Homo sapiens: one gene and its partners. The protein of the gene in region 2 binds, or shares a complex with, the protein of the main gene of each other region. Each region holds a gene or a part of one and is shown on either strand. Other genes may lie near its edges. A codon is read from its position in the direction of its gene.

The links.
Region 1: the proteins of MIOS (region 2) and WDR59 are in contact, whole or in part, in a cryo-EM structure (PDB 7UHY), measured with the Homo sapiens proteins. Residues at the interface, in NP_001357005.1 of Homo sapiens: Asp705, Trp710, His711, Arg713, Ala714, Ile718, Ser721, Lys728, Pro729, Leu730, Ala731, Gln732, Val733, Phe734, Val735, Ser736, Cys737, Asn738, Phe739, Ile744, Lys780, Pro781, Leu782, Pro783, Leu787, Cys788, Leu789, Gly793, Pro795, Gln819; in NP_085058.3 of Homo sapiens: Tyr871 (codon at 5,459), Arg876 (codon at 5,474), Glu877 (codon at 5,477), Arg879 (codon at 5,483), Ala880 (codon at 5,486), Glu881 (codon at 5,489), Leu883 (codon at 5,495), Lys884 (codon at 5,498), Pro889 (codon at 5,513), Pro890 (codon at 5,516), His893 (codon at 5,525), Lys894 (codon at 5,528), Gly895 (codon at 5,531), Ile896 (codon at 5,534), Glu897, Phe898, Gly899, Val900, Tyr901, Arg906, Glu908, Val909, Arg910, Thr912, Phe922, Gln923, Ala925, Ile926, Cys927, His928.
Region 3: the proteins of MIOS (region 2) and CASTOR1 are in contact, whole or in part, in a cryo-EM structure (PDB 9LVK), measured with the Homo sapiens proteins. Residues at the interface, in NP_001357005.1 of Homo sapiens: Ala83, Asn84, Val109, Pro110, Lys111, His112, Ala113, Arg114, Asp134, Lys135, His136, Arg137, Asn184; in NP_001032755.1 of Homo sapiens: Val94 (codon at 1,041), Ser116 (codon at 975), Thr117 (codon at 972), Tyr118 (codon at 969), Gln119 (codon at 966), Thr120 (codon at 963), Asp121 (codon at 960), Thr188 (codon at 468), Tyr236, Leu255, Thr256, Ser257, Ser258, Ala295, Tyr296.
Region 4: the proteins of MIOS (region 2) and SEH1L are in contact, whole or in part, in a cryo-EM structure (PDB 7UHY), measured with the Homo sapiens proteins. Residues at the interface, in NP_001357005.1 of Homo sapiens: Arg279, Arg316, Ser317, Phe353, Glu354, Arg355, Ile356, Ser357, Leu358, Ala359, Trp360, Pro362, Leu366, Met367, Trp368, Ala369, Cys370, Gly371, Arg372, Leu374, Tyr375, Glu376, Cys377, Thr378, Glu379, Glu380, Glu387, Asp389, Ile390, Ala391; in NP_112493.2 of Homo sapiens: Met1, Phe2, Val3, Ala4, Arg5, Ser6, Ile7, Ala9, His11, Lys12, Asp13, Leu14, Ile15, His16, Asp17, Val18, Phe20, Phe22, His23, Gly24, Arg25, Met27, Trp47, Ser173, Ser174, Ser175, Asn230, Leu231, Gly232, Arg233.

What each region holds. Positions count from the first base shown.
Region 1 is NC_000016.10:74,883,883-74,891,189, reverse strand, and holds part of WDR59 (GATOR2 complex protein WDR59), read left to right. Parts: intron 1-1,374; coding exon 1,375-1,487; intron 1,488-2,870; coding exon 2,871-3,021; intron 3,022-3,434; coding exon 3,435-3,507; intron 3,508-4,793; coding exon 4,794-4,920; intron 4,921-5,394; coding exon 5,395-5,537; intron 5,538-7,307. UniProt on the Homo sapiens protein: As a component of the GATOR2 complex, functions as an activator of the amino acid-sensing branch of the mTORC1 signaling pathway. The GATOR2 complex indirectly activates mTORC1 through the inhibition of the GATOR1 subcomplex.
Region 2 is NC_000007.14:7,590,633-7,597,939, reverse strand, and holds part of MIOS (GATOR2 complex protein MIOS), read right to left. Parts: intron 2,961-7,307; coding exon 2,808-2,960; intron 1,684-2,807; coding exon 1,479-1,683; intron 1-1,478. UniProt on the Homo sapiens protein: As a component of the GATOR2 complex, functions as an activator of the amino acid-sensing branch of the mTORC1 signaling pathway. The GATOR2 complex indirectly activates mTORC1 through the inhibition of the GATOR1 subcomplex.
Region 3 is NC_000022.11:30,286,425-30,293,785, forward strand, and holds the start of CASTOR1 (cytosolic arginine sensor for mTORC1 subunit 1), read right to left. Parts: upstream 3,082-7,361; 5' UTR 3,074-3,081; coding exon 2,961-3,073; intron 2,353-2,960; coding exon 2,282-2,352; intron 1,137-2,281; coding exon 949-1,136; intron 864-948; coding exon 731-863; intron 525-730; coding exon 401-524; intron 1-400. Other genes in the region: TBC1D10A (TBC1 domain family member 10A), read right to left, coding at 5,951-6,427, 7,227-7,361. UniProt on the Homo sapiens protein: Functions as an intracellular arginine sensor within the amino acid-sensing branch of the TORC1 signaling pathway. As a homodimer or a heterodimer with CASTOR2, binds and inhibits the GATOR subcomplex GATOR2 and thereby mTORC1.
Region 4 is NC_000018.10:12,971,728-12,979,034, reverse strand, and holds part of SEH1L (nucleoporin SEH1), read right to left. Parts: intron 3,303-7,307; exon of another isoform or gene 3,153-3,302; intron 284-3,152; coding exon 143-283; exon of another isoform or gene 142-142; intron 1-141. UniProt on the Homo sapiens protein: Component of the Nup107-160 subcomplex of the nuclear pore complex (NPC). The Nup107-160 subcomplex is required for the assembly of a functional NPC.

The DNA of each region.
Region 1 (7,307 bases), on a different chromosome or scaffold from region 2:
TGGGCATACAATGCTGTGCTGCTACTGAGAAAGGTTTTCCAGAAAATAGTATTTGATTTTTTTTTTTTTTTTTTTTTGAGACAGAGTCTCGCTCTGTCGCCCAGGCTGGAGTGCAGGGCGTGATCTCGGCTCACTGCAACCTCTGCCTCCCAGGTTCAAGAGATTCTTCTGCCTCAGCCTCCCAAGTAGCTGGGACTACAGGCGTGTGCCACCATGCCCAGCTAATTTTTGTATCTTTAGTAGAGACAGGGTTTCACCATATTGGCCAGGCTGGTCTCGTACTCCTGACCTGGTGATTCGCCCACCTCAGCCTCCCAAAGTGCTGAGATTACAGGCGTGAGCCACAGGGCCCGCCGTATTTGATTTTTAAAGGTATTGAGGGGGTGGGAACTTTGCTTATGACATGATGGGTTTAGCCTGTGCCTTGGACTTAATAGACACTTAGAGGCTATTGGTTTCTGCTCAATGGCTCCAGGCCCCATGGGATTTCAAGTCGGGGAGGTATTCCTCAGATTTGGTGTCAACAAAAAGAAAGCCAAATCCATTTTGTCTTGGCCTATTGTTATTATTGTTACTTTTTAGCTTCAGAGAGGATACTGAAACTTTTATAATGAAGGCAACAAAGTCTTTCATTATTTAGGAAAAGAGGGACAGATCTTAAATGTGTTATAGACTGCCTTTTTTTTCCTCCCTGCCAACCCAACTTACTGATGAAACAGCATTTTAAAAAGTCATGTGAGGCCGGGTGCAGTGGCTCACACCTGTAATCCCAGCACTTTTTGGGGCTGAGGCAGGTGGATCACTTGAGTCCAGGAGTTCCAGACCAGCCTGGCCAACATGGCAAAACCCCATCTCTACTGAAAATACAAAAATTAGCCAGGTGTGGTGGCACATGCCTGTGATCCTAGATACTCGGGAGGCTGAGGCAGGAGGATGGCTTGAACCCAGGAGGCAGAGGTGGCAGTGAGCTGTGATTGTGCCACGGCACTCCAGCCTGGGCGACAGAGCGAGACTCTGTCTCAAAAAAGTAAAATAAAATAAAAAGTCATATGAGTTAGTGGTTAAGTAGATGACCCACTGAAATTATTACACTGTGTCATTTCTCTGATGTTTGCTTAATGAAAAATTTTTAAGCCTAGTGTTTCTCAAACTTTAGAGTGCACATAACTCCCCTAAAGAGTTGGTTAAAGTGTAAACGCTGATTCAGTAGGTCTAAGTGGGGCCTAAACTTATGCATTTCAATAAGGATCCAGCTTTTGCTGCCCCCAATGTAGCAAGGCATCAGGTTTTATATGGAAGACAGGTGGGATTGCTTCATGGTTTCGGTTCTTGTCCTTGCCAGTTTGAGTTTGTATTTCTCTTTGATCTGTCCAGGTTTGGTCGCTGGCTACGGTAGCTACAGATCTTTGCCTTGGTCCGAAATCTGACCCAGATTTGGAAACACCCTGGGCTCGACATCCATTTGGGCGGCAGCTGCTGGAGTCCCTGTAGGTTTTGAGAGCTAAAAATGAGAAAAATGAGTGATGTCCATTTTTGGTCTGTAAACACTTGAAATGTCACCACCTAAGAGAAAGGTGCAGAGGCCCGAGGAATGAAAGGAAGGAGTAGGATCTTTCCTTTCAGTGCTGAAATAATTTCTGTGCAGAACAAACTTCTTATAGCAGACAGAACCATACATTACTTGTCATTTATAACAAGGATTTGAGACCCCTGAGACTCATGTATCCTTTAGAGATTCATGCTTTAGTCCATAAATCACATCAGTCTGAATACAGGAGTTTGAGCTCATGAGATGGTAAGTTTCTTCTTGAAAGCTCTAGGGTCTCACCCTTGAGAATGGATTAGAGAATTGCATGTTGGTGTTCATGTTTGCCAAAGACCACGACGCTTTCACCCTGTTAGGCAATTTGAGAAAACATTGCCTTTGCGTTCAGTTTATTGCACTGACATATGGAAAACTAGGGTATACTATACAAAATAATTTAACACCAAGTAAAACCACTTGAATCTCCATAACTTGGAGGCCCAGGGCCTGGGGAGAGAAACGCTCCTGACTTCAAGTTGAAGTTTGCTTAATTTATGCATTAAGGCCACCCCTGGGACACGTGTTCGTGCTTCCGTTTCCTTGTCACTAACACAGGGATGATAAGGTTTACTCTACTTATTTCGTGTAAGACTCAAATAAGATAGTGAGTGTGAAAACACAAATATTAGACATTGAGTGATAGGAGGACATTAATATTATTCATTCTTAAAGGCAAAGCCCCTCTGATTCCTTACTCACATTCTAGCATAATCTTCCTGAAAGGACAAAGGGGATATGAGTACCTAAAGGACAGAAACACTCCTTGTTGTTCTTACCTAATAGCTCATCTTCATAACTGCACCTCCAGAGTCGATTGCCTGCTAGCATGCTGTGGCGGTCCAGTGTCCTCTGAGCTCCTTCATGTAGCTTTAGGTTATATAAATGACATGTGTGGGAATCCCCCAAAAGCAGTGTGATTCTTCCTTGGAGCTGGGAAGACAGAGCATGTATTGGCTCGCTCAGATGTCAGGTTAGTCCACTTAGTTCTTGGAGAAGCCACATTCATGTTTAAGCCCATGCCTGAAAGTTAGCCAGAGGCTTTGAGATGCGTTCTGTAGATCATTTGTAGTACGTGGATGCCTTATATTCCAAAACAAGTTTAGGCAAACTCAAAGTAGGTCAAACTGCCGGATCTGTAGAAAGCCCCATTTCCTGATGGGTTTTTGAGGCAGAATCAAGACTCCTCCCTTCCCACCCCTGTGGCAGTAACACGCCATGACTGTGACCGCTTTCCTCCTCAATCCCTCCTCCTGACTTGTTTTCTTTCCTCTTATCTTTTCCTCAGGTTGGCTCACTATTGCCGGCTCCGGGATGTTCAGACACTGGCGATGCTCTGTAGCGTGTTTGAAGCCCAGTCTCGGCCTCAGGGGCTACCAAACCCCTTTGGGCCTTTTCCTAACCGTTCTTCTAATCTTGTGGTGTCCCATAGTCGATATGTAAGTTTGTCCTTTTCTGGTTTTGTCTGATTTTTTTTTTTTTTTTTTTTTGAGACGGAGTTTTACTTTGTTGCCCAGGCTGGAGTGCAATGGCATGATCTCAGCTCACTGCAACCTCCGCCTCCTGGGTTCAAGCAATTCTCGTGCCTCAGCCTCCTGAATAGCTGGGATTACAGGCATGCACCACCACTCTTGGTATATTTTTGTGGTTTTAGTAGAGATGAGGTTTCACCATGTTGGCCAGGCTGGTCTCGAACCCCTGACCTCAGGTGTTCCACCTTCCTTGGCCTCCCAAACTGCTAGGATTACAGGCATGAGCCACCGTGCTTGGCCTGCTGTTTTCTTAATGTGAACTGTCATGGGGAATGGTATTCTCATGCTAGTCCTGTTGGTTCTTCTCTTCCCTTCTGTAGCCTAGCTTTACCTCTTCTGGTTCCTGCTCCAGTATGTCAGACCCAGGGCTCAACACTGGCGGCTGGAACATAGGTTTGTATGGAAATGACTTAGCCCACGCTGGATTTTTAGTTCTCCCAGAGCTGTGCATATGTAACCTTTAGTTGATGCTTAGTCTCCATATTTTTTCTTATTTCTTATTTCTCTTTACATTTACTGTGATAGGGATACTCTTGCTGGAGGCCTGACTTTGCATGTTGAACAGACCACGTTCTGGGGGTCTTTGTGCCTTGCTGTGTTGCTTTTCATCTCTTAACCTTGAGAAACTGACAATGGGACTTCCCACTGTTCACCCCCAAAACCTAACCCTTATCCTTTCTCCTTCACATGCTCTTTCCATGTTCATCTGCCACCTACCGCTTCCCATGAATGCTTTCAGTGTAGACAAATACAGCTGGGCCTGACTCCAGTTGATCATAAAGCTGTTTGCTGAGTAAGGTGTATTTGTGTTTCCTGGATTTAAAAAAAAAAAGGTTTTTAAAATGATCTTAATTTTCCTGATATCAAAAGTAGCTCATGCCCAGTGAAGAAAAGCAAGCAAAAAGTATTAGAGAAGAAAATTGTAATTATTGATCTCCCACCTAGGAATAGCGTCCATTAACATTCTAGAACATTTGCATCCATTCTTTGTGTGCAGGAGTGTGGTCATTTGATATATGTGACTTTGTGTTCTATTTTTCATTATATCATGAGCAAATATTGTTCAAAAAGTCCTCGTAAATAATGACTATGTAATGTTCTACTGTATCTCTGTGCCATCATTTGCTTTATTTATTTATTTTTTTTAGTTTTTTGAGATGGACTCTTGCTCTGTCGCCAGGCTGGAGTGCAATGGCATGATCTCGGCTCACTGCCCCCTCTGCCTCCCAGGTTCGAGCGATTCTCCTGCCTCAGCCTCCTGAGTAGCTGGGATTGCAGGCACGCACCAGTACGCCCAGCTAATTTTTGTATTTTTTTAAGTAAAGACATAATTTCACTATGTTCGTCAGGCTGGTCTCAAACCTCTGACCTCAGGTGATCTGCCTGCCTGGGCCTCCAAAAGTGCTGGGATTCCAGGCATGAGCCACAACGCCCAGCCCATCATTTGCGTTAGCATCATGTGTGTGTACTTAGTGATCAAGTTCTCTTAGTAATAAATACCTGCGCAAAAAGGCAAGGGTAGGAGAGAGTTCTATTTAGTTATATTTCTCAGAATATTCAGCCTCGCTTAACATTTCTTCTGGGAAATCCATTGGCCACGTGCTGTCTTATGAGACTCTTCAGATATTTTCCATGCCTTCTCTGATTGCCATCTTCCCTTCCCATTTGATTTTCTTCAGCGGGAAGAGAGGCAGAGCACTTGTCCTCCCCTTGGGGAGAATCCTCACCAGAAGAGCTCCGCTTTGGGAGTCTGACCTACAGTGATCCCCGTGAGCGAGAACGCGACCAGCATGATAAAAATAAAAGGTAACCACCCTCCCAGGTGAGAGCTGCAATGCCAGGACTCCAGGCAGGACTCCAGTTTCTCCACAATCACAACTCTTACTTTTTTTTTTTTTGGACACAGAATCTTACCCGGTCACTAGGTTGGAGTGCAGTGGCGGGATCTCGGCTCTCTGCAACCTCTGCTTCCCAGGCTCAAGTGATTCTCCTGCCTCAGCCTCCTGAGTAGCTGGGATTACAGGCACACGCCACCATGACTGGCTAATTTTTTGTATTTTTAGTACAGACAGGGTTTCACCATGTTGGCCAGGCTGGTCTCAAACTCCTGACCTCAAGTGATCCACCCGCCTCAGCCTCCCAAAGTGCTGGGAGTGACAGGTGTTAGCCACCGTGCCTGGCCAGGACTGTTGCTTTAAGAAGGGTATATTAAGTGCCATTTAGGATGAAGCTTGTTTTTTCTTAAAGGAACTGACAGGAAATCTTTTTAACTTTATCCAGGCTCCTGGACCCCGCCAATACCCAGCAATTTGATGACTTTAAGAAATGCTATGGGGAAATCCTCTACCGTTGGGGTCTGAGAGAGAAGCGAGCTGAAGTGTTGAAGTTTGTCTCCTGTCCTCCTGACCCTCACAAAGGGATCGGTGAGTATGAATTTCTCTCTCTTCCTTTCACTGTCTGAAAGATCCTGTAATTTAATATGTCCACAGCCTCAGACTTGGAATGAAGTTTCAGCTTCTCATTTCTAAGCAGAAATTTCTGAGGCATTTTGAGTCTATTCCAAGCATCTGAAAAGCCCTTGCATTTCGTAACAGGATGAATTTTTTTTTTTTTTTTTTTTTTTTTTTGAGATGGAATCTCACTCTTGTTGCCCAGGCTGGAGTGCAGTGGCGTGATCTCAGCTCACTGAACCTCTGCCTTCTGGGTTCTAACTTCTCCTCCCTAAGCCTCCCGAGTAGCTGAGACTACAGGCGCCTGCCACCATGCCTGGCTAATTTTTGTGCTTTTAGTAGATGGGGTTTTACCACGTTGGCCAGGCTGGTCTCGAACTCCTGACCTCAGGTGATCTGCCTGCCTCGGCCTCCCAAAGTGCTGGGATTACAGGTGTGAGCCATGGCGCATGCCCAGGATGCAGTTTCTATTGCAACAGAAGTAGTTGATATACAGTACTCCAGCGCGGATGAGAGGGATGGATATTTCTTCATTTATTCCACTGTGTGTCCGACTCCTCTTAGGCACAGTGCCCACACATTCCTTCCCCCCATGGAGCTTACAGCTGAGTAGGGGGGAAAATTAAGTAATTTCAAATTGTGATAAATATTCGCAAGCAAACAGAAACGATGTGGGGGCAGGGAGAACAGAGAGGGAGAATCTTAGAAGAGGAATTGAGGTGTGTTGAGAAGGCCTCCAAGGAGCTGAGGTCTGAAGGTTTAAAGGAACCGTGGAGCCATCGGTGCAGAGTGGTGAAAAGAGCATCCCACACTGAGGGACAGGCCCCAGGGAAATGACTGTCGTTGTGAACAAGCGAAGGAAGGTGGCGTGGTGTGGTTGGAGTACAGTGGGGAGAAGAGTGATATCAAATTAGAGTGTAGAGAACTTAGGGTTATATCAGGCAGGGGCTTGTAAGTTGCGGTAAAGAATTTGGATTTGGCCGGACGTGGTGACTTACGCCTGTAATCCCAGCACTTTGGGAGGCCAAGTCAGGCAGATCACTTGAGGCCAGGGGTTTGAGACCAGCCTGGCCAACATGGTGAAACCCCGTCTCTACTAAAAATACGAAATTAGCCAGGCGTGCTAGTGCACACCTATAATCCCAGCTACTCAGGAGGCTGAGGCAGGAGAATCGCTTGAACCCAGGAGGCAGAGGTGGCAGTGAGCCAAGATCACGCCACTGCACTCCAGCCTGGGTGACAGAGCGAGACTCTGTCTCAAAAAACAAAAAGAATTTCAATTGTATCCAAGTCCAATGGTAAGCTTCCAAGGGCATAAGAAGTAAGCAGTGTGCTTTGGGTTGTGTTTTAAGAGGGTCACTGTGGCCTTCCTACGAGGAAAGGATGGGAGGAGGGCAGATCAGAAATAGGAAGCCCGTTCAGAGACGTTGTAGCGGTCAGAGGCAGACAGCCCGGTCTGAGGGTGGCATCGCTAGAGTTGGAGAGAGATGATGGATGGGTTAAAATATATTTTAGAGCTAGACTCAGTGTGACTTGTTTATAACTTGGATGTGGGATCAGGAAGAAAGATGAAACTTGGACGATTCCTAGATTTCCAGCATGAGCAACTGGGTCATTGGCAGTACCAGCTTCCCAGATGGAAACGACTGGAAGAACACTGTGGGCTTAGGTTGGGATAGTCAGTGATGTGTGTGAGATATCGGACTGGAGAAGTTGCATAGGCGGTTGGATGTGAGTTGGGCT
Region 2 (7,307 bases):
TAATCCCAGCACTTTGGGAAGCTGAGGCAGGTGGATCGCTTGAGTTCAGGAGTTCAAGACCAGCCAGGGCAACAGGGTGAAACCCTATGGTCCCAGCTACTTGGGAGGCTGAGGTGGGAGGATCACCTGAGCCCAGGAGGCAGGAGGCAGTAGGCAGAGGTTGCCGTGAGCCGAGATCATGCCACTGCATTCTATCCTGGGTGACAGAGTGAGATCCTGTCTCAAAAAACAAAACAAACAAACAAACAAAAACGAACACTGTGTGTGTGTGTATATGTATATATTCCAAATTGTTATTTTCTGTTTATTAGGACCAGAGTAACATAAAAGAGTGGTCAGTATGCAATGTATAAAATAAAAATCCTTGATTAAAATTTAAATCAAAACTAAAATGTACATTTAAAACATTACGTATTGCCTTCATATATATATATATATATATATATATATATATATATATATATATATATAAATTTACTAGGTAACTGACAAACAGCAGAAGCAGCATCAAAATCTAGAAGTCAAGGGACCTGACTTCTAGGCTAATACTTTCTCTATGTATTTTCTTATTTATTATTATTTTTTAATTAAAAACATTTTTTTTTTTTAAATTTAGGACAGAGTCTTGCTCTGTCGCCCAGGCTGGAGTGCAGTGGCATGATCTTGGCTCACTGCAACCTCTGCCTCCCGGGTTCAAGCAATTCTCCTGCCTCAGCCTCCCAAGCAGCTGGGACTACAGGTGTGTGCCACCACGCCCGGCTAATTTTTTGTATTTTTAGTAGAGACGAGGTTTCACGATGTTTGCCAGGATGGTCTTGATCTTCTGACCTTGTGATCTGCCAGCCTCGGCCACCCAAAGTGTTGGGATTACAGGCGTGAGCCACCATGTCCGGCCAAAAAAATTTTTTATAGAGATGGGGTCTCACTATTTTGCTCAGGCTGGTCTCAAACTCCCAGGCTCAAGTAATCCTTCCACCCTGGCCTCTCAAAGAGCTGGGATTACAGGCATGAGCCACTGCAACTGACCCTTCTCTCATGTATTTTATAGGTAGGTTTTGAAGATGAAGGAAGAAATGTCAAAGTGCTTTAATGATGTCAAAAGATCCTTAGAAATACAAAGTATCTGTTAATAGGTGCGGGTATACTGACTTTTAAATAATCAAATTTGAACGAACTCCTCTTAGTGGAAACAGTGATAAGAAAATGGTAATATATTAAGATTATTTCATATTTAAGTTTTTCTCACAAACTTTAAATTGGTCAGAACTTGTGAAATTACCTGAAGTATCAATAGATATAGATTTTGCTTTTAGTTTTCATAGTTCATAAATTATAGGAACATAAAAGCCTTCAAGCTAGTAAACTGCCCTTTCTTAGAAATAATAACTCTAGCTAGTTTGTATTTTATTTGCAACATTAACTCAATTATGTAAGAATCATTTCAGTTCATAAAAGTATTTTGTAAAATTATGTCATACCAGGACAGCTAGAAACTGGTGTTCCCATATTAATGAGACAAAGCGCACATCGAGGAAGTGGTTTTCGACAGCCAGGACAACTTGTGACTTTAGATTTCGTTGGTGAGCCACTCACACCATACTGACTAAAACCTCTGCCCTGATGAGGCACAGCTGAACAGCTGTAGGAGATTGACTTGCCACAGAAATTGCAACTCACAAAAACCTACAAAACAAATGAAAGAAAAAATAAATGTAATGCAAACCATAATGGAATGCTAAATAACTTAGTGTGCGCCTAACAAATTATTTTTAAATACTTTTAAAAAACTTTATTTTATATTTCAAAATTGATCTGCTAAGGTTGACTAGCTTTCATTTAAAATTTATACCTAGCAATTACATTTTTGGGGTACTTCCTTTTTAATTATATTCTTACTAATACCACTGAAATTGGTGGAAGAACTCAAACTTTAGACTCCAACATTTTAGAAATAACAATGACTTCAGAATTCACACTGGGCCATTACAAAATATCCCAATATGACTTCTAAACCACAGTTCAGTGATATAATCTTCTGAACAAAATTTTCTTATAAAGAAAACGCTGTTCCTAAGACAAAGAGAGTTAACAAACTTATAATGGTAAATAGTTAAATTTTTAGAATAATAGCAATAGAAGCTGTTCATTTTGTTTTTACCGTAAATTGCTAGGCTCTTAATCACTTATCATATAGATTAGTAACATGTACTACCATGTAATGCTATTTTATCAACACTCTGGTTTTAACATAAGCACTTTCTCAAGTTCCTAAAATAAGAAAATAGCACCATCCAGTGCTCATATTGAGGATAACATAATATTTAATATCTGAACTAAGACACAGTGATTTAATGTGGTATACCTTATGTGACAACAATCTCATTTTTTAAACTAATGCTAAAAAAAAATTTCCATGTGTAATTAAACATATAGATATAGGTAATACTGCTAAAGTCTAAAAAACCCAAATCCTGCCTTACTGCACATAAATAATGCTAAAAAACTTAATACACAAGTGGAATTTATAAGATAATGTAATAGTTTAGAATCTGAAAGGGCTGGAAATACACTGGAAAACTTCAGGCCTGCTGTGGTTTGTTCTATCTGCGACTAAAGCTCAAGCCACTGAGATGATTGTTAGCAAGAAGCAGAACCAAAGGACAGGAAGATCAAGGACAAAGTTCAGTCTACAAAAGACAAAGACATCAATGGGAACTCAATATAAGCAAAATAATGAGCTAATAGTAACTTATTAAATTGAACATCAACATGTTACAATTTGATTTTCTCCAAAACAATGTACTTACTTGTGCTAAAGGCTTGGAACTGGGATCCAACTTACTCCTGTGAATATCAAATTCAGCTCGTTTATGCCAAAACCTCCAGGCATCTAATAAATTTCTATAATTCTCAATCCAGTACTGAACCCTTTCATCTTTAAGAACATCTAAAGGTGAACCCTAAAACGAAAACATGAATTATTTCAATTGTTTAAAATCTCCTGGCTAGGCCAGAGACTTCTGGGTAGCATGTAAGTATGAGTAACACAGAAGAAATAGGCCTTTTTTTTTTTTTTTGCCAAAAGCTGGCTCCTAATGAGAATAAAGAAAATTTATGGAAGCTCCATTAATTTATCTCAAGCTGGGTTCCACTAATGACATAAATATGTACTTTATATATCATACCTGCCCAGGGAAGTCTAATTCTCTACCTTTTAGTTAAGTTTAAGAAAATAGAACTTCGTGGTTGAATGTTGTAAACAGTGATACGAATACCCTTTGTCCCAGCAATTAAAAACCTCTGGGTTCACAAACTCTGTTTACTATCAAATCCAAATGTAATACAGGCTGGGCGTGATGGCTCATGCCTGTAATCTCAGCACTTTGGAAGGCCGAGGTAGGCGGATCACTTGACGTCAGGAGTTCGAGACCAGCCTGGCCAACATGGTGAAACCCTGTCTCTAGTAAAAATACAAAAATTAGCCAGGTGTGGTGGCAGGCGCCTATAATCCTAGTTACTTGGGAGGTTGATGCCTGAACCGGGAGGCGGAAGTTGCAGTGAGCTGAGATTGTGCCGTTGCACTGTAGTCTGGGTGACAGAATGAGACTCCATTTAAAAAAAAAAAAAAGTCCAAATGCACACCAAAATTGCTCAGTCACATCTGAACTAACAGTTAGCTTGGTCCTTCCTATCTAGCAATGCACGGTGAACTGAGATGCTGCTTTTATATATCTACTTATCTGTAAGTTAAACCTGTCTATTCTTACTCTTGCCTTCAATTAAAACATACATTTCTTGCCTTAAAAATAATAACAGAACAAGAAAAAGCAAAACCAAACCAAATACCTTCTTAGTTCTTTTGCCCGTAGCCACAGTTAAAAGCAACACCTTGTTTTAGTTAAATTTACTTTAGAGTTCTTCTCATTAAGATCTTCAAGTTCTTGCCAGTAATAATTTTCCTAAAGTTGTATTTTCCCTGGCAGCTGTGACATTCCACATTTCATCTATGCTTGCTTTAGGTTTTCTTTTTTTCTTTTCTTTTTCTTTTTTTTTTTTTTTTGGAGACAGAGTCTCACTCTGTCGGCCAGGCTGGAGCGCAGTGGCACGATCTCGGCTCACTGCAACCTCTGCCTCCCGGGCTCAAGCAATTCTCCTGCTTGAGTAGCTGGGATTACAGGGGTGTGCCACCACCTAATTTTTGTATTTTTAGTAGAGATGGGGTTTCACCATGTTGGCCAGGCTGGTCTTGAACTCCTGACCTCAGGTAATCTGCCCACCTCGGCCTCCCAAAGTGCTGGGATTACACGCATGAGTCACCGTGCCCGGCCGCTTTAGGTTTTCTTAGAAGACTTTCAGCCCTGTCCAGGATATCTTCCTTAACTTTACATAATGGAGAAAGGAGAGAAAGTCTCTACTTCCAATGATGCTTTGGCATCAATCTGAAGGTTAGTTTTCTCAGTCCTACTTGAGGGCCAATAGAAAAGTGAAATTTCAGAGAGAACCTGGCGTATATCTTACTTATAAAAAAAAAGAACAAAAATCTGTAAGAGCTAATATAATCTTTAGACATCCAATCAAAAACTGAAGCAACATATCTTTCATCTATTAAATTCAGTGTTAATTACCAGAGTTAAATTTAGCTAAAAGAACATGTGAAACACATAGCTTACAATTTCATTTCTTAAAAAAGTAGAGGTCTACTCTAGCCCTAATTATGACCAAGTAGGCAGAACTAAGTACCAAAGTAGCATATAATCCCTGGTTTAAAAAGAAAATTCACAGAAAAATAAGATGTTTTCACATCTCATTCTTTCCCCTTATATGGCAAGAAGGGGATAAACTAAGTAAGAATTTGGTCAATACATATACAGTAAGTCTTCTCTAGATCCTCTCCAATAAAGCCTAAAATCAAGCCACAACATGATCTGTAATGAAAATAGTTCAGAGATTGAGTCTGACCAAATCAGAAGGGCTTGGGAAAATAGTGTTTTGATTAGTGAAGAGATAAGGAATCTGAACCGAGAAATGTAAACCAGGGGGCTCCAACCCCCAATATACCCCCAGGTCCACAGCCTGGTACAAACTGGGTCACACAGCAGGAGGTGAGTGACAGGGCAATAAGCAAAGCTTCATCTGTATTTACGGCTGCTCCCCATCCCTCACATTAGTGCCTGAGCTCTGCCTCCTGTCAGATCAGTGGTGGCATTAGATTCTCATAGGACAGTGAACCCTACTGTGAACTGCACATGTGAGGGATCTAGGCTGCATACTCCTTATGAGAATCTAATGCCTGATGATCTGTCAATGTCTCCCATCATCCCCAGATGGGACCATCTAGTTGCAGGAAAATAACCTCAGAGCTCCCACTGATTCTACATTATGGTGAGTTGTAGAATTATTTCATTATGTATTACAGTGCAATAATAATAGAAATAAAGTGCACAATAAATACAATGTGCTGGAATCATCCCTAAACCAACCCCCTGGTGCTAAAAAGTCCCTGGGGCAAAAAGGTTGGGGACTGCTAAAGTAAACTGTAACAAAGTTAAGATTCTGTAACTGAAAAGCACAATAACTGAAATGAACAATTCCCTGGGAAGTTTAACAGCAGACAGAGGTGATGGAATAAGTCAACAGAATCAACAAATCTGGGCCAGGCACAGCGGCTTGCGCCTGTAATCCCAGCACTTTGGGAGGCCGAGGCGGGCAGATCACTTGAGGACAGGCATTTAAGATCAGCATGGCCAACATAGTGAAACCATGTCCTACTAAAAATACAAAAAATTAGCCAGGTGTGGTGGCACATGCCTGTAATCCCAGCTACTCGGGAGGCTGAGGCATGAGAATCACTCGAATGCTTGAACCTGGGAGGTGGAGGTTGCAGTGAGCCAATATTGTGCCACTGCACTCCAGCCTGCGTGACACAGCAAGACTCTGTCTTAAAAAAAAAAAAAATTAACCAATTTGAAGAATAGTGGGAAAAAAAACATGGAAGGAAGAAGAATAGAGCCTCAGGCACCTACGAACACTATGAAGTGGTTTAATACATATGTAATAAGAGTCCTAGAAGAAAAACCGAATAAGATTGAGGCAGAAAAAAATATTTAAAGAAATAATATCCCCGTACTTCCCAAATCTGCTGAAAAACAGACTTCCAGATCCAAGAAGCTCAGTGAACCACAAACAGGATAAAATGAACCACAACCAGGTACATTAAGGTCATACTACTGAAAAATCAAAGGTAAAGGAAAAATCTTGGAAGAAACCCAAAAAGATTATCCTACATATAAATAATAGAAAACATTTTATTGATGGTTGCAAGGAAAACAAATTTACTTAAACATTAAAAATCAGAATTTAGGCTGGGCGTGGTGGCTCATGCCTGTAATCCTAACACTTTCGGAGGCCGGGGCGGGCAGATCACTTGAGGTCAGGAGTTTGAGACCAGCCTGGGCAACATGGTGAAACCCCATTTCTGTCAAAAATACAAAAAATTAGCCAGGAGTGGTGGCGTGAACCTGTGGTCCAGTTCCTTGGGAGGCTGAGGTGGGAGGATTGCTTGAGCCTGGAGGCTGCAATGAGCTGAGATCCACCCCAGCCTGGGTGAGAGAGCGAGACCCTGTCTCAAAAAAAAAAAAAAAACCCAACAAAAAATGAAACATCACAGACAGGGAGACAAGCATAAGAACAGCTGATTCTCATCAGAAACAACAGAGGCCAGAAGACAGTGAAACTACATCTTTAAAGTGTTGAAAGAAAAAATAAGAGTGAAATAGACATTTTCAGTTAAAATTTGAGAGAATCTGTCACCTATATTACAAGGAATGCTATAGGATTTACAGAAGGGAAAAAGAATGCCAGGAATGGTAAATAAGTGAATAAATATAAAAGCCCATGTTTTCTTTTCATAATTTACATAAAAGACAAATGACTGTTAAAAAAACACTGTAAGTTGGAGTATATAATATCTGTAAAAGTAAAATATATGACAATAGGACAAAGGAATGGATGTGTAAATGAAATCACACTGTTGTGACATTTGTGAAGCATGAAGTAAAACCCAGAAAGTGTCAGAGTGACATAAGAAAGGGTAAAGTAGAAAGAAAGCATGATGTGTCAGGTGAGAAATGTGAAGTATGAGGGGGTAAAATGTTGACTTTGATGAGTTGAGGGATGCATATTGTTAGATCTACAGCAACATCTTTTAAAAAAGATAATGAAAAGAGATATAGCTAAAAAGCCAATAGAGGCAATAAAATGAAACATGGAAATATTAACCCAAAATAAGGTAGGAAAGGAACATAGGA
Region 3 (7,361 bases), on a different chromosome or scaffold from region 2:
TGCCCCTGCTCCCGATCAGCCTCCAGAACCCTGGGAAGGAGCTGGTATGGTGGCCTGGGCAGGCTCTGCCATATCTGCTACCCGCCCAAGGGTCCAGCCCTCTGGAAGGTGTGGGTGGGGATGGGGGAGGACAATGAACCCAGCCTGTGCCAAAAACAAAGGATTCCACGGTGAGAGGGCCAGACCAGGGCATGGCTCAGACGACCCCACTGGAAAGGGATCCAGCTTTGGGGCAAGAACCTTCCCCGAACATCAGTGAAGCACAAGTGAGCATCATGGGCTGCCAGGAACCCCAAGAGAGGACAAGCAAGAGGTGCAAAACTGATAGATGGGCGGAAAGTGGTGGGACAGAGTGTAGGGAACAGTGCTGTGAGGACAAAGACGAAGTTCCAAGGTCCACCTGTGCGAGTAGAAGAGGACATCTATGAGGGTGGTGGCGATGGCTGGAAGCGTCTCAGGGTCCAGTGTGAGGACACAGAAGCGGTTCTGTGGGCTCTGGATGGGATGCACCGTGGGGCTGGGCCCTGCTGGAGGACAGCAGCAGGTGAAAAGGTGTCCGTGGGCTGGGGCGCCCCCTGGTGGCTAGTCAGGGAGAGGCGTGGGCCAGGGGCAGGTCTTGCTATCCAGGAACTGGCCGGGGTCCTCCTGCCCCACTGGGGCCCAAAAGGGAAGGGACCCAGTGGGAAGAGGAGGCCCTGCCCAAGTCCAAGTGTCAGGGGGCGGCCCTCACCATGCTGAGTGCGGGGAAAGCCATTGCTGGAATCATCCCTCGTCACAGGCACAGGCTCTCCGCCCACCTCGCGGTAAATGTCGAACTCCTGGGCCAGCGTGTGGATCACCACGGACAGGTCCTGCTCCCGCACCTGGGCCACAGCAGATGGCACATCACATGGGCTCCCAGGTACCTATATCCACCCTGCTCTGCATCAGCACCAGCAGGAAACTCACCAGGATGAAGTCCGTCTGGTAAGTGGACAGCATCAGCACAGACACGTGGTGCTCGGCCAGTGGCGCGATGACCGAACGGGCGATCTTGGTGACCCCAGCAGCCTGCACTGCCGCACCGCTGTGAGACGACACGTTCAGCACCAGCCATGTGGCCTCAGCTACTTGCAGGAACTCAGATGGGGGCAGCTCTGTGGGCAGGGGACATGTCAGGTCAGGGTCTACAAGGCTGGCCCCTGCCCCTCTCTGAGCCTCAGTTTCCCTTTCTGTGCCTTGGAGGGCTCCATCAAGGTAAGGGCAGGTCTGGAGGCTGGGGCTCCTGAAGTCCCTATGTGTGCAAAGACTGAGAAAGGCTTCAAGTGCTGGCCTGGTGGCATTGAAACTTCCCACTTAAGATCAGAGGTCCAGATTCAGACAGACCTGGGTTCAAATCCCAGCTTTGTTAATTTGTCTTATGACCTGGGGTGGGTGATTTGAGTCTCAGTTTCCTCATCTGTAAAATGGGACGACAATATCTACCTCACTACGGTGTCTTCTGTGGGTTAGCAGAAGCTTTGTACCACATGGCACCACCAGGGGGCATTCGCAGATCAGGTTGGCTGGGGGATTGCCTTCCCCTTTTGCAGACCCAGACTTCTGAAGTAAAAACAGGGAAACTAAGGCCTGCAGTGGAGCATGGGGACAGGCTAAGCTCCAGCTAGCTGGCCTGAGACTCCAAGCCTGTGAGGATGGGCAGGGCCAGCAGCAGGAGGAGGAGCTAGGCGTCAGCTCCAGGCCCCAGGGAGGGCCCAGGCTGGCGTCCAGTCCTGAGCTGGGGCCAGGGCCTGGGTGGCTGCTATTCACCCCAGCACAGCCAGGAGGCCTCCAGGACCCTCCCCTGAGATGGCTGCCTGCTCCTGCATTCCTTCCCTCAGACTCCTGGAGTTTCCAGACCAGCAGGGGAGGAGGTGACCCAAACCAGAGAGTAAGACCAGGAGGAAATAATACCCAGGGATTTCTAACAGCAGCACTTGACTGGAATCATAACAGAGGCCCTTCTGCAGGCCTAAGACTGCTGAGTGCCCCTCAGCGGTTTTAAGTTTATAAAGGCCTCATGGGACCCTATGTATCAGAACCATAACTATACCCATTTTACATAAGAGAAAACAGCTCAGAGAGGGAAAGTGATTTGCTCAAGGGCACACAGCCAGGGAGTGGTGGAGTAGGATTCGAACCCCGACCCATCTGCTTTTAAGGCTTAAGCTCTTGGGACGGATCCCAGCAACTGGTGAGAACCCTACAGAAGGGGAGCACGACAAGCCCCTCCCGTACTCCCGTTCCCCAGACCAACCCCCACCTTTAAAGCCCTCCTCGTCCACCATAAGCGTGTAATCCTCAGGGGTCTCCGTCAGGCTGAAGAACTTGCACCTGGTTGGGGGTGGGGAGCATCTTCAGCTTGGTGTGGAGAACTAGGGGTCGGGAGTGGATTTCTCTCCATCTGCCCCGAGACACCCCCGCGACCCTGGGCCGGGCGCCTTCTTGCCCTCTCGGCCTTTAATTTCCAGGCCAATGGGATGTTAGCCCCATCTCGGGGGTTGGGGGCTACTTTCCGGCCTCCCGACCTCTCCAGGAACCCTCCACCCCTCCACTCCTGGAGGGAGGAGAGGTTCACACCCGCGGCGACAGCCCCAGGGGCGTCGGACCTTGGACCCCCTAGTCCAGCCCCTCTGACATGAAGGGAGGCGTCCTGGAAGGAGCTCCCCGCAGTGACCAGGTAGGAATGCCCCCATTTGACACTACTGAGTTAAGCATTGCCCATCCCAGGCTGTTTGCGCTTTGCCCCTGGGAGGGGGCCTCACGGGGCCGGATAGGCGGCGGTCCCCCAGGCCGGATGGCGGCCGGACGGGGAGAGTCCTCCCCACCCGCTCCCGCCCGCCTGCCTGCCTGCCTTACGGCGATCCTAATCCTCCGACCCTGGCCCGGAGCGAGAGCAGAGCCCCCAGCCCCTATCTGCGCTCCCGAACCCGGGCGCGCACCGGCTGCGGCGGGGCAGGAAGAGCAGCTTGATGAGCGGGTGGGTGTAGAGCCAGAGACCGGGACGGGCGACGCTCAGCACCCGCACCCGGTGTTCTAGGATGTGCAGCTCCATCGCGGCTCGCGCGGACCCGACCCCGCCGCCAACTAGACCCAGGCCGCACGGGAGGCGGGGCGGCGGGGGTGGTGCCCGAGCCTTAAAGGAGCCGCTGCGCTGCCGCGTCCACGCCGCCCGCTGCGAGGCTGACCCGCCCAGCCAGGCGCGGCGTCCGGCTCCTTGACGGCCACGCCCCGCGGGAAGAGAAGCCTATTGGGTGGTCACGCCTCCTCCTAACGCCAGAACCTCATCCCGCTTTCCAGCCAGCCCACCGAGACCGCCCCGAACGGCTCCGCCTTTTTTAGTACTGGCTCGGGGATAGACCCCACCCCGTCTGACTCCTCCAGGCCCCGCCCCTGACGCGCCCCCTCCCTGGGCTCCGCCCTTTCCGCGGAAAGCCAGCTGCGCAGCCGGTGGGAGCATCCCGGAGGGGACGTTTCTGTCCTTCTGGCACACACGTGGGTTTCATGATTGAAGTCCTTGAGACAGAAGGGACACGAAACAAACTGGAGCTCGGCTAGGACCAGAACGCTGCCCCCAAATCCCCGGAGCAATGAGAGGCACAGGTCTGCTGTGCAGCGCTGTCCCCCGGGCGCCTTTCGCTCTCCTGCCTCTCATGGCTGCAGGGGGCAGGGCCGCCAACACAGGATTGCGATTGATACCTACCCTTCCCCGCTTGCGAGGGGGCTGACAAATTGAAACCTGGCCTGGTAGCCCCACTTGTTCCTTTCATCCAACTTTCAAAATAGAAGGCTCCTCACCAGGGGCACACAGAGGTAGAATCCTAGCCACCTCTGCCTGAGCGACATACTTTGGGTTAGGGGGCTGCAGGTGGCCAAGGCCTAAGGCTTGAGGTCCCTCGATACCAACAAAACCCGGAAGTGCTTGAGCCAGTAATGCCCAGTGCTCAGACTTTGGTGGGGGAGGCCCTTGCAGCTGAGGTTCAGTGAGTACTCAGACCTCAAGCCTGAAACTTGAGCCCCAAAGCCTGCAGCCCTTAGCTAGCCTGTGCACATCTAAACTTGCTTCAGGTTCAAGGAGGCCCCCGGCACTGGCAGACACCCCAGATCTTATCAGGCCTTCACAGGTCTAAGACCCCCCCAAGGCTAAGCAGGCATCAGCATGTCCATGTTGGCTCCATGCAGGGCTGAGAATGCTCCAGGGGACCCTTGCCTGGCCTGAGCACCCTGAGGCCTCAGATGTGAGGCTTTGAACCAAGTAGACTAAAGCAGGCCTCAGGCCTGATTGGGACCCAGCAGGCCTAAGCAGGCCCTCTGCCTGCTCTGGAGCCCCCACCATAGGCAGATGGAAGCCAAGCTAAGCCTCCTCCCTGGACTCTCGGGCTTGACACATTCCTGTGAAACACTATGTAGCCACCACATCCTGGCCTATCCCCTGGAGGACTAGGGGAAGGAGGAGCTTCTCAAAGGCTGAGCCCATCTCATCAATGGCAGGTGCAGACAGAGTGGGAAACCATGGGGCTGAGGGGAAGGAGGCAGGAAGTGGAGTGGCCTACCCTGATAGTCTCTTGAAACCCTTCACCTCCCTAGGCCTCAGTATCCCCAGCTGTACCAGGACAGGATGTTCCAGGCCCAGGCGAAGGCTGAAAGCTCCCAGGGAGGCTCTGCTCCTCCCTCTCCTGCCCCCTCCCGCTATGGCCTGGCCTGGCCCAGCTTGGTCATCTGCCAGGAATAGCGCTATTGTTTGACTGGAAAAGCTGCTTCCTCAGCAGAAGGGGGGCCTCTCCCAGGGACACCCTGTCCTTGCCCTCACCAGTCATCAGGTTGTGACCGCAGTGCCTGCCTGGGCCCTCAAGGGCAGAGTCAGGTCTCCTGGAGCCCTGGTCAGGAGAGGAAGCTGAGTGAGGGGCTCTTGGTGCAAATCCGGCTGAGGCTTTCCCATTCAGCTCCTGTTTCCTCGTCTGTTAAATGGGGCTAATGGAGCCTACTTGACCAGTCCAGCCTGGCACTTGGCAGTAAATCGAAGGCGGCATTTTATCAAAGAACCACAATTCGCCCCCCTCCCTGAGGGCCTGGGCTGAGCCTGTGAGGACATTCGTGGTGCTCCACTCCGGGCCCCGTCCCTGACCCCAACCCAGAATCAGCTCTCAGAAACTTACTGGAGCCTGAGGTAGCATCCAGGCCAGGACTTGAAGGAGGAAGACCCTGAAACCTCCTCCTTAGGAGTCCCTGCCCCCTTGGTGGGTGGGTGAGGACCAAGGCCTAGGGAGCACGCCCTGCTCTGCCCAGCACTGAGCTCCAGCCCTGGTGTCCCTCATCTGTGGCAGAAGGTAGACATAAGGCAGTGGGGATGGGGTGAGTGAAAATGGGGGTTAAGAATGGGGGCTGACCAGGGACTTGGCATGTCCTCTGGCAAAGGTACCTCTCAGAGAGGCTCTGGTGCTGGGCTGGGGCCCAGGAGAAGGGGCTCTGTAGGGCAAAGAGAAGAGATGCTGAGCACCAAGGTGACCAAGGTGGTACCCCCTTCCCAGCCCCTAGCTGTACACGAGCTCTCTATACAAGGCTGTTTATTTCTGTACAAAACCATGTTTCTATTTTACACAAAGAACACCCCACCCTTTCCCCTCACACCAGCACCCTAACCCTGGGGAGCATCCCCCAGGAGGAGGGGGCTGAAGGAGGCCCCACCCCCCAGGCCCTAGCTTCTGCCTGCCCTGGCTGGGCCAGCCTGAGTGCCACTGTAAAGAAAATAAATAAGGAGGCTCAGGCAGAATCTGTGTTGGACCAGGCAGAATCTGTGTTGGACCAGCCAGACTCCAGCCCAGCCCAGTGGCCAGGCAGCTTGGCCCTCAGAGGGTGGGCAGGATGTGGAATGTCAGTTCATGAACCGTGTAGTTATATGGAGACCCCGCCCTGGAGGCCTTAGCTGCCAGGGTTACAAGTAGGTGTCCTCACTCTCTTGGGACGTCAAGCTCTCCTGGGAGCGGTGGTGGGCTGAGACCTGGGGAGCCAAATCCTGAGGGGCTGAGTCCTTGGGGGCTGAGTCCTTCGGGGGCACATGCTGTGGGGGACATGCATCTCCTGCAGCGGCCACCACCATGGCTTGATTTGGGGCTGGGGGCTTCTCCAGCTGCCCTCTCCCCTTCATCTGTTTCCGCTGCTCCTTCTGGGCCTGCTTGGGTGGCTTGGGCTTGGCTTTGGAGCCAGGGAGGGGGGCATCTAGGGGCAGGCGGATGGATGGTGAAGGTTGTAGGGCAGGCCGGGGACCAGGTTCTGCATCCAAGATAGCCTTGGCACCATGCAGCCTGGGCGGGGAGCGGCACTGCAGCTCACCCCGGGTCTCCTGCCAGCGCCGCAGCTGAATGAGGTGTTCGCGCTCAATCTGGCGCTCTGTCACGGGCAACTCCACCACCTGCAGGGGCAGTGACACAGGCAAGTGGACACCAAGAAGAAGGACCTTCCCCTTCTGCCTCCCAGCCTGGGCCCCCAGTCTTCCTCAGCATCCCCCAGCCTTGGCCACTAAACACTGACCCCAGGAAGGATGAGGGTCTAGTCCCAAGCTGCAGTCACGAGCCCCACAGCTGAGTGCCAGGTGAGCTGGACACTTGAGACCCACCGCCTCAGAGGATAAAGCTGCCCACAGCTTCACGAGTCCACCTGCCTGACTATGGGGCTAAAGGGGTAAGACCCAGACAGACAAAAACCTGCTCTCTGCCAACCTGTCACCCACCGCTGCCCAGGGCAGCCTGGCTGCTTAGGCTCAAATTCCAGCTCCACCTGGGTGGGTGACTTTAAGGGGAGTTGCTTAGTGATTCTGCCTCTGTGAGCCTCCATTTCCTCATGTGTAAAAGCTGGTCACGCATGTTCCACCTAATTGCCCCTGAGAGACAAGTATCCATAAAGAAAGAACAAAGAGAAATAAGAGCCAAGGCTGCGAATGGGGTACCAGGGAGGAAGACGGGGCCGTGGGTCAACATTCTTCTTCATTCCCAAGCGGCTCGGATCCAGAAGGCCCTGCAGAGCCAAGCCTCTCTGTGCCCCATGCTCTTCACCAGACAGAAGGATGAGGTCCACCCACATGTTCTGTGTTGCCTAGCAATGGTCCTGGCATAGGATCCACCCTCAGGGGCTGAGGGTTAGCGGGACCCCCTTCAAAGGACCCCCACCTGTCTTCCTCCCTCCCCATGATAAGGGGCAGGCATGGGCTGTACCTCCTGGACCAGAAAGGCCTCCTGCATGATCTTGGGGCTGAGGCTCCGCAGTCGCTCGATGGTCTCGTACTGGCCCTGGCAGGCTTTGACCTTCTCAGGGGAGCCCAGCGCGTGCTTCAGCAGCACCAGCCCCAC
Region 4 (7,307 bases), on a different chromosome or scaffold from region 2:
ATTTCAAAGTTTACATTTTTAAGTAAAACTTCCAGAGCAGAAATATAAACCAAATCATAGTTACCTCTACTCTCTCCTCCACAAACAAAGGTAATCAGAAGGCAAGAGTATTTTCAAATTCATAAATGCTTCTAAAACTCACCTCACAGGCTTTAATGTAAAAATTCTCACATCTTTGGTCGCTATTGCTAGAATATGGAAAGATCTTCCCAAATTTGGAGCGAATGCAATATCATGAACAGGATCAGTGACTGTCATAAGAGTTTCAGCTTTTGCATATTTCCTAATGGAAAAACAATTGACATTAACATTTTAGAAATAAAATGTGCAAAAATCCACACATCACTGCATCTCACCTTTTTTTCACACTGCTCACAATCATGTAGTGCTCACCTCTGTAGTGGGCTCAACAGCAGCCCCCAAAAGAATATGTCCAAGTCCTGACCCCCAGACCCTGTGAATGTGACCTTATTCAAAAATAGCGTCTTTGAAAATGTAATTAAGGACCTCAGAATGACATCCGAGATTTAGGGTGGGTCCTAAATCCAACGTGCAGTAAGTATTCTTTAAAAAGAAGAGAAGAAACGCAGAGACAGAGAGGAGGCAGCCATGTGAACACAGAGGCAGAGATTGGAGTTATGCTGCCACAAGCCAAAGAACTCCCGGAGCCAGCAGGAGCTGGACTAGACCAGGAAGGATTCTAGAGGAAGCACAGCCCCAACACCTTGATTTCAGACTTCCGACCTCCAGAACTGTGAGTGAATACATTTCTGTGTTAAGCCACCTGATTTGTGGTAATTTGTTATGGCAGCCCTAGGAAATTAATACAACCTCCCACGTTTCCTCCTTTAATAATGTACATTTAGCTCGAAACGCTTTAATAAAAATTTAATTACAATAAGGTCTTGGCTGGCCACAGTGGCTCACACCTGTAATCCCAGCATTTTGAGAGGCTGAGGTGGGAGAATTGCTTGAACCCAGTAGTTCAAGACCAGCCTGCGCAACACAGCAAGACCCCATCTTTACAAAAAATACAGAAATAGCTGGGCATGGTGGTGCACACCCATTGTCCCAGCTACTCAGGAGGCTGAGGTGGGAGGATGGCTTGAGCCCAGGAGGCGGAGGTTGCAGTGAGCTGAGATTACGCCACTGCACTCCAGCCTGGGCAACACAGTAAGACTCAACTGCAAAAATAAAAAATAAAAAAGGGCTTGATTTATTAGCCACTAACATCTTTCTTAGGAAAAGAGTAACACATTGCCTAAGTATTTGAATGTAAATAAAAAAGTAAAGCTGGTAACAGGAATTGAGGTTTTTTTGAGACAGTTTCACTCTTGTGCTGGAGTGCAATGGCGCAATCTTGGCTCACTGAAACCTCCGCCTCCTGAGTTCAAGTGATTCTCGTGCTTCAGCCTCCTGAGTAGCTGGGATTACAAGCGTGCACCACTACGCCTGGCTAATTTTGTATTTTTAGTAGAGACAGGGTTTCACCATGTTGGTCAGGCTGGTCTTGAACTCCTGACCTCAGGTGATCCACCCGCCTCTGCCTCCCAAAGTGCTAGGATTACAGGTGTGAGCCACTGCGCCCAGCAGGAATTGAGTTAAGTGATAATAAAAGGAAACTATGCAAAGGCTATTTCATCCTTGCAATTCTATTTCTTTATCTATAAATACAGAATAAGAGGATAATGAAGGCAGTGGTAGATCAGAGTTTTCTACTAGGTTCTTCTAAGATTGAATATCCTGGACAGAACGGCAGCACCTAACCCCCTGCATGTAGGAGACTGGGTGGAGACATCTCCCCATCCCACCTTTCTACAGCATTCTTCACTTGACCTTCTTTTCATCCCAACATTCTTCCTAAAATCTCTACCAAGCTGGTACACACCTCAAGGTTCTCTCCTTGATCTTTCTCACCCATCCAATCACCCTAAGCAATCTCATCCACATCCTTGCTTCTACTGTGTGGTCTGCAGCAGCCTGGGAGCTTCTGGGAAATCCAGAATCTCAGCCCCCTCCTGGGGCCTACACAATCAGAATATGCTTTTTTTTTTTTTTTGAGACAGAGTCTGGCTCTGTCGCCCAGGCTGGAGTGCAGTGGTGTGATCTCGGCTCACTGCAAGCTCCGCCTCCCAGGTTCATGCCATTCTCCTGCCTCAGCCTCCGGAGTAGCTGGGACTACAGGGGCCTGCCACCACGCCCGGCCAATGTTTTTTGTTTTTTTTGTATTTTTTAGTAGAGACAGGGTTTCACCATGTTAGCCAGGATGGTCTCGATCTTCTGACCTCGTGATCTGCCCACCTCGGCCTCCCAAAGTGCTGGGATTCAGGCGTGAGCCACTGCGCCCGGCCAGAATATGCATGGTTTCTACACCCATGGTTTCAGTACCTATAAACCAATAATTCCTAAATCTATCCCCTGCAATTCAGGGGATAGATTCTGGCCTTCTACCAAAGGCCAGAAATAGGACAGGTGGAGCTAAGAGCACACATGCTGCAGCCAGAACGTGTTTGAATCCAGGCTGTAACGACCTTCAGCAAGTTCTCCGTAAAGTGGGAGGAACACCCGTACTGTGGCAGAGAGATTCTAAGTGCCCCCATGACCCGCACCTCCTGGTGGTCCCGCCCTTGTGGAGGCTCCTCCCCATGAGTGTGAGTGGGGCCCGTGGCTTGTTTTCTACCCAGGGGACGGAACATGGCAAGGTGGTGGGACAACACCCGTGTGACTACAACACACAAGCCTGTGACGCCTGCCTCATGAGAAGACTCTCCTGCTTTCAGGCCTTGCAGAAGCAGCTGCCATGCTGTGAGGACACAAGGGAGGGTCTCGTGGCAGGAACACGAGTGCTGCCAACAACCAGGTGAGCTCCGAAGTGGAGTCTTTCCCAGTCTGGCCTGACTCTTGACCCACAGACATTGAAATACCGAATCTGTACTGTTTCAGCCACTGAGTGATAATGCTGTCATGCAGCAATAGACAACTAATCTCAGCTATTCTATCCATCTGCCTTTACACATCCCCACCTGGATGTTCCAAACGCACCTCAAACATATGTCTGAAATAAATTGTGCTTACCACATTCACTCCTCTTTGCTCAGTCCCCATCTCAACAAGTGGCACTACCATCAGCTAGGTCAGAAACCAAGACTCACGTGACCTACAGCTGGTGCCTCCTAGACAAGTCTCCCCGGTCCCTCTTCATCCCACGCCACAGTGCATGTCCTCATTCCACATCATAGTGGGCTACTGCATTCATCCCTGAGTTCCTGCTCCCAGTCCACACAGCTGCCAAAGTCATCTCCCTAAAAGGTAAATACAACCTTGTGACTCTACTGGACCCTGCAAAAGTCCAAATGCTGCCAGGATAGAGATCAGACTTGGCAAGCACCACTCTCCAAAATCTGCCTGGCCTGTTGGCCTGCCCCTCCCCTGTCTCTCTCCTGCATTAGCCTCCCCACCCACCGCCTCGACCCCACGCCCTTGTCTTTGCTCCTGCCTCCTCTCTGCTTGCAGAACACCCTCTGTCTTTCAAGATTCATGCTCAAACATCATCAGCTGAAACTTCTCACCCTACCAGGCAGGTATGTGCTGCCATCTCTAGCAGGTGACCATCCTCATCCATATCCTAGGCGCTGTAAGCTCCTTCAGCTCTTAGTACAGTCCATGCTGCTTATGAAATGTTGAAAAAGTGAGATTTTTTTTTTCTTACCTGAGGCAAGCTATATATTGTAATTAATTAAGGTGGCTGGGCACGGTGGCTCACGCCTGTAATCCCAACACTTTGGGAGGCCGAAGCAGGCAGATCACCTGAGGTCGACAGTTCGAGACCAGCCTGACCAACATGGAGAAACCCCATCTCTACTAAAACTACAAAATTAGCTGGGTGTGGTGGCACATGCCTGTGATCCCAGCTACTTGGGAGGCTGAGGCAGGAGAACTTCTTGAACCCAGGGGGCGGAGGTTACGGTGAGCCGAGATCACACCATTGCACTCCAACCTGGGCAACAAGAGTGAAACTTCATCTCAAAAAAAAAAATAAAATAAAAATAAAAATAATTAAGGTTATCTAAAGCTTCTCCTATCAGAAGGAGCCAAATAAGATCCTCAATGAGAGTGTAAATAAAGAGAATGAACAAAAAAGACTTTGTTTCTGGTCCTGACTCTGGACCTTAGACTAGTCATTCACTCTGTTGGTCTCAGTTTTCTCATTTGTAAAACAGTGTTAATAAAAGCTGTCTCCTCTACTTACAAGGTGGTTGGTAGGATTCAAACTTCATAACACACATAAAAATGCCCGGTAACCTATATAAACACATGGCACTTCTATTATCACTATCAATCCTAGATCTGTTTTAGTATTTTCACTCACAAATAAAAACAAATATATCCAACACTGGTTAATTTGGCAAATGTCTCCTGTCTACTAAATGGTGATACTACTTAGAAAAAGATAAACAGGCCGGGCGTGGTGGCTCACACCTGTAATCCCAGCACTTTGGAAGGCTGAGGTGGGCGGATCACAAGATCAAGAGATGGAGACCATCCTGGCCAAAATGGTGAAACCCCATCTCTACTAAAAATACAAAAGTTAGCTGGGCATGGTGGCGGGTGCCTGTAGTCCCAGCTACCGGGGAGGCTGAGGCAGGAGAATCGCTTGAACCCGGGAGGCAAAGGTTGAAGCGAGCCAAGGTTGCGCCACTGCACTCTAGCCTGGAAACAGAGTGAGACTCCATCTCAAAGAAAAAAAAAGAGAGAAAAAGATAAACAGGTATTAATAACGATACTACATAGTCCACTATCACATCTCCTCCACGTTCAATCTAAATAAGAACCTTCAAACAATGCTTACCTCAAAGAACCAGCAACAGAACTCCAAAAAGTGCTGAACTTAATAGGTTTGATTACTTCCCAAGTCAATAGCACACACCCCCACCTGCAGACACTCTTTCCCCAACACCACTTCCCCTCGTTTTTGATGCTGAAAATGCCAGACACTTGCTGTCTCACTCTCTTGCAGCTAAGGCATGGCTGGATGACCAAACTCCAGCCGCCAGCACCTGATAAGAAGCCTGCTAAGATACTTCTAGGAAAGGTGTTTTTTTCTAGAATACCCTTCTTTGTATTAGCATGTAAAACCTGACATTGTGCAGCTCTTTTGTGATCATAAGAGGGAGCTATCACCAGTGTACTAAGCATGACAGCAAGAAAAAAGTGGAAAATATTTAGGTAGGTCCTTGATGTCATCATTGAGCAACTGAGTCACTACCTAACCCCAGAACTGCTCCACCCTCAGGCTCCTTGTCACATGACATAATACAGGGAATCCCCCAGTCTAGATTTATTCTGTTAGCTAAGAGACTAGACTCAAATGCAATCTCAGATTATTTTTAACATTGGATTATTTAGGTAATTTAGAAATACTTAGGTAATTTCTAGGCCGGCCGTGGTGGCTCACACCTGTAATCCCAGCACTTTGGGAGGCCGAGGTGGGTGGATCACCTGAGGTCAGGAGTTCAAGACAAGCCTGGCCAACATGGTGAAACCCCGTCTCTACTAAAAATACAAAAATTAGCCAGGCGTGGTGGCACGCACTTGTAATCCCAGCTATTCAGGAGGCTAAGGCAGGAGAATCACTTGAACTCGGGAGGTAGAGGTTGCAGTGAGCTGAGATTGCATCACTGCACTCCAGCTTGGGTGACAGAGTGAGACTCTCAAAAAAAAAAAAAATAGGTAATTTCTATTTGCCTGTATTTTCTTTCAGAACTAACTGCAAGTTATTTATCTTTTTACTCAAATCTTACTTATGAAATATTTTCTTTTCCTATGTTTTAGAAAAAAATCTTTTTTTGACACTGCTGGAGTGAAGTGGTGCAATTTTGATTTACCGCAGCCTCGACCTCCCAGGCTCAGGTGATCATCCCACCTCAGTCTCCCAAGTAGCTGGAACTACAGGCATGCGCCATCATCCCCACAGCTAATTTTTGTACTTTTTGTAGCGAAAGGGTTTCACCATGTTGTCCAGGCTGGTCTTGAATTCCTAGACTCAAGTGATCCACCCACCTCAGCCTCCCAAAGTGCTGAGATGGCAGGCATAAGTCACCTCGCGTGGCCAATGATACACCTTTTACGTTTTTGGGCTTATGTCTACATATTCATTCTGCTCAGCTCAGGTTGAAATTTACTTTAACAAGCCCAACACTTCATGAAGCCTCTATAAAATGTGCTATTAATAGGGCTCATAGTTTTTACAGCTTAAAACTCCATGAAAATCTCTAAGACCATTTCCCATCACTGCAGCACATTCTACTGGACAGCACTGTTGAAGACTGAGCCTCTCTGCAGACACCAACAATCTAGGAAGGTAGAAGGTGTAAGATCCCCTTGGTAACCCAGATGGTAACATTTGGAATTGCAGAGCCCACGGGAGTAACACTAGTTCCTTCTCTACTGCTGGCCCTGCCTAAGATCTGACTATTAGACTCAAGAATTTTGTCTAGTACCTGCGAAGCCCATCTGATCACCTGACAAGTGCTCTCTTCTCCTGTAAGACTGAGTAGTGTGCCTCTGAGACACTGCTTTTGGCTCTCAGAAGCTTTGCAGACACTTGTATCTCGGCATGACCAAAATTAACTTACCTTCACATGCTGCCACACTCTACCCAAATCTGCCTTGTTCCCAGAGTTCCTTATCTCAAGAAATTACACACATTGAAATTACACACTGAACTCTTAAGCCAGAACCTTGGAAATCATCTTAACACCTTCCCCCTTCTTCCTCAGTTCAGTTCTCAAATCCAATCAATCACCAGATCCTATTGATACCACTTCTCAATTATTCTCAAGTTGTCCACTTATCTCCATGCCACTGCTACTACTATCCCAAAGCCACGTACTCTCCCACCTGGACTGTCTTCATAGCATCCTAGCCGTGAATCCACCATGTTTCCCTCCAAAACACTTGTCACACCTATAGAAGATCCATCTGATCCCATTATTCCCTATTCACATCACCTGTAAGATAAAACTGAAACAATGGACATTACTTCTTATAGATACAAGTCTTGCCTATTTCTCTCCACACTCATTTTTGCCCAGCATGTTCCAACAACAGTATAAATATACTCCCTCTCTCTTGCTCACGGCCTTACCACATGCAGTTTTCTCCACCAGGAGTGCTTCTGCCCTCTTTGTCTGGCTAACTTCTACTCACCCTATAGGTCATCTTCTAGGTGAACCTTCCTAGCCCCTAAACCAGATTAGGTTCCCCAGGTATAAGCTCTTTAGCACCCTAATTCTTCCACTTCATAA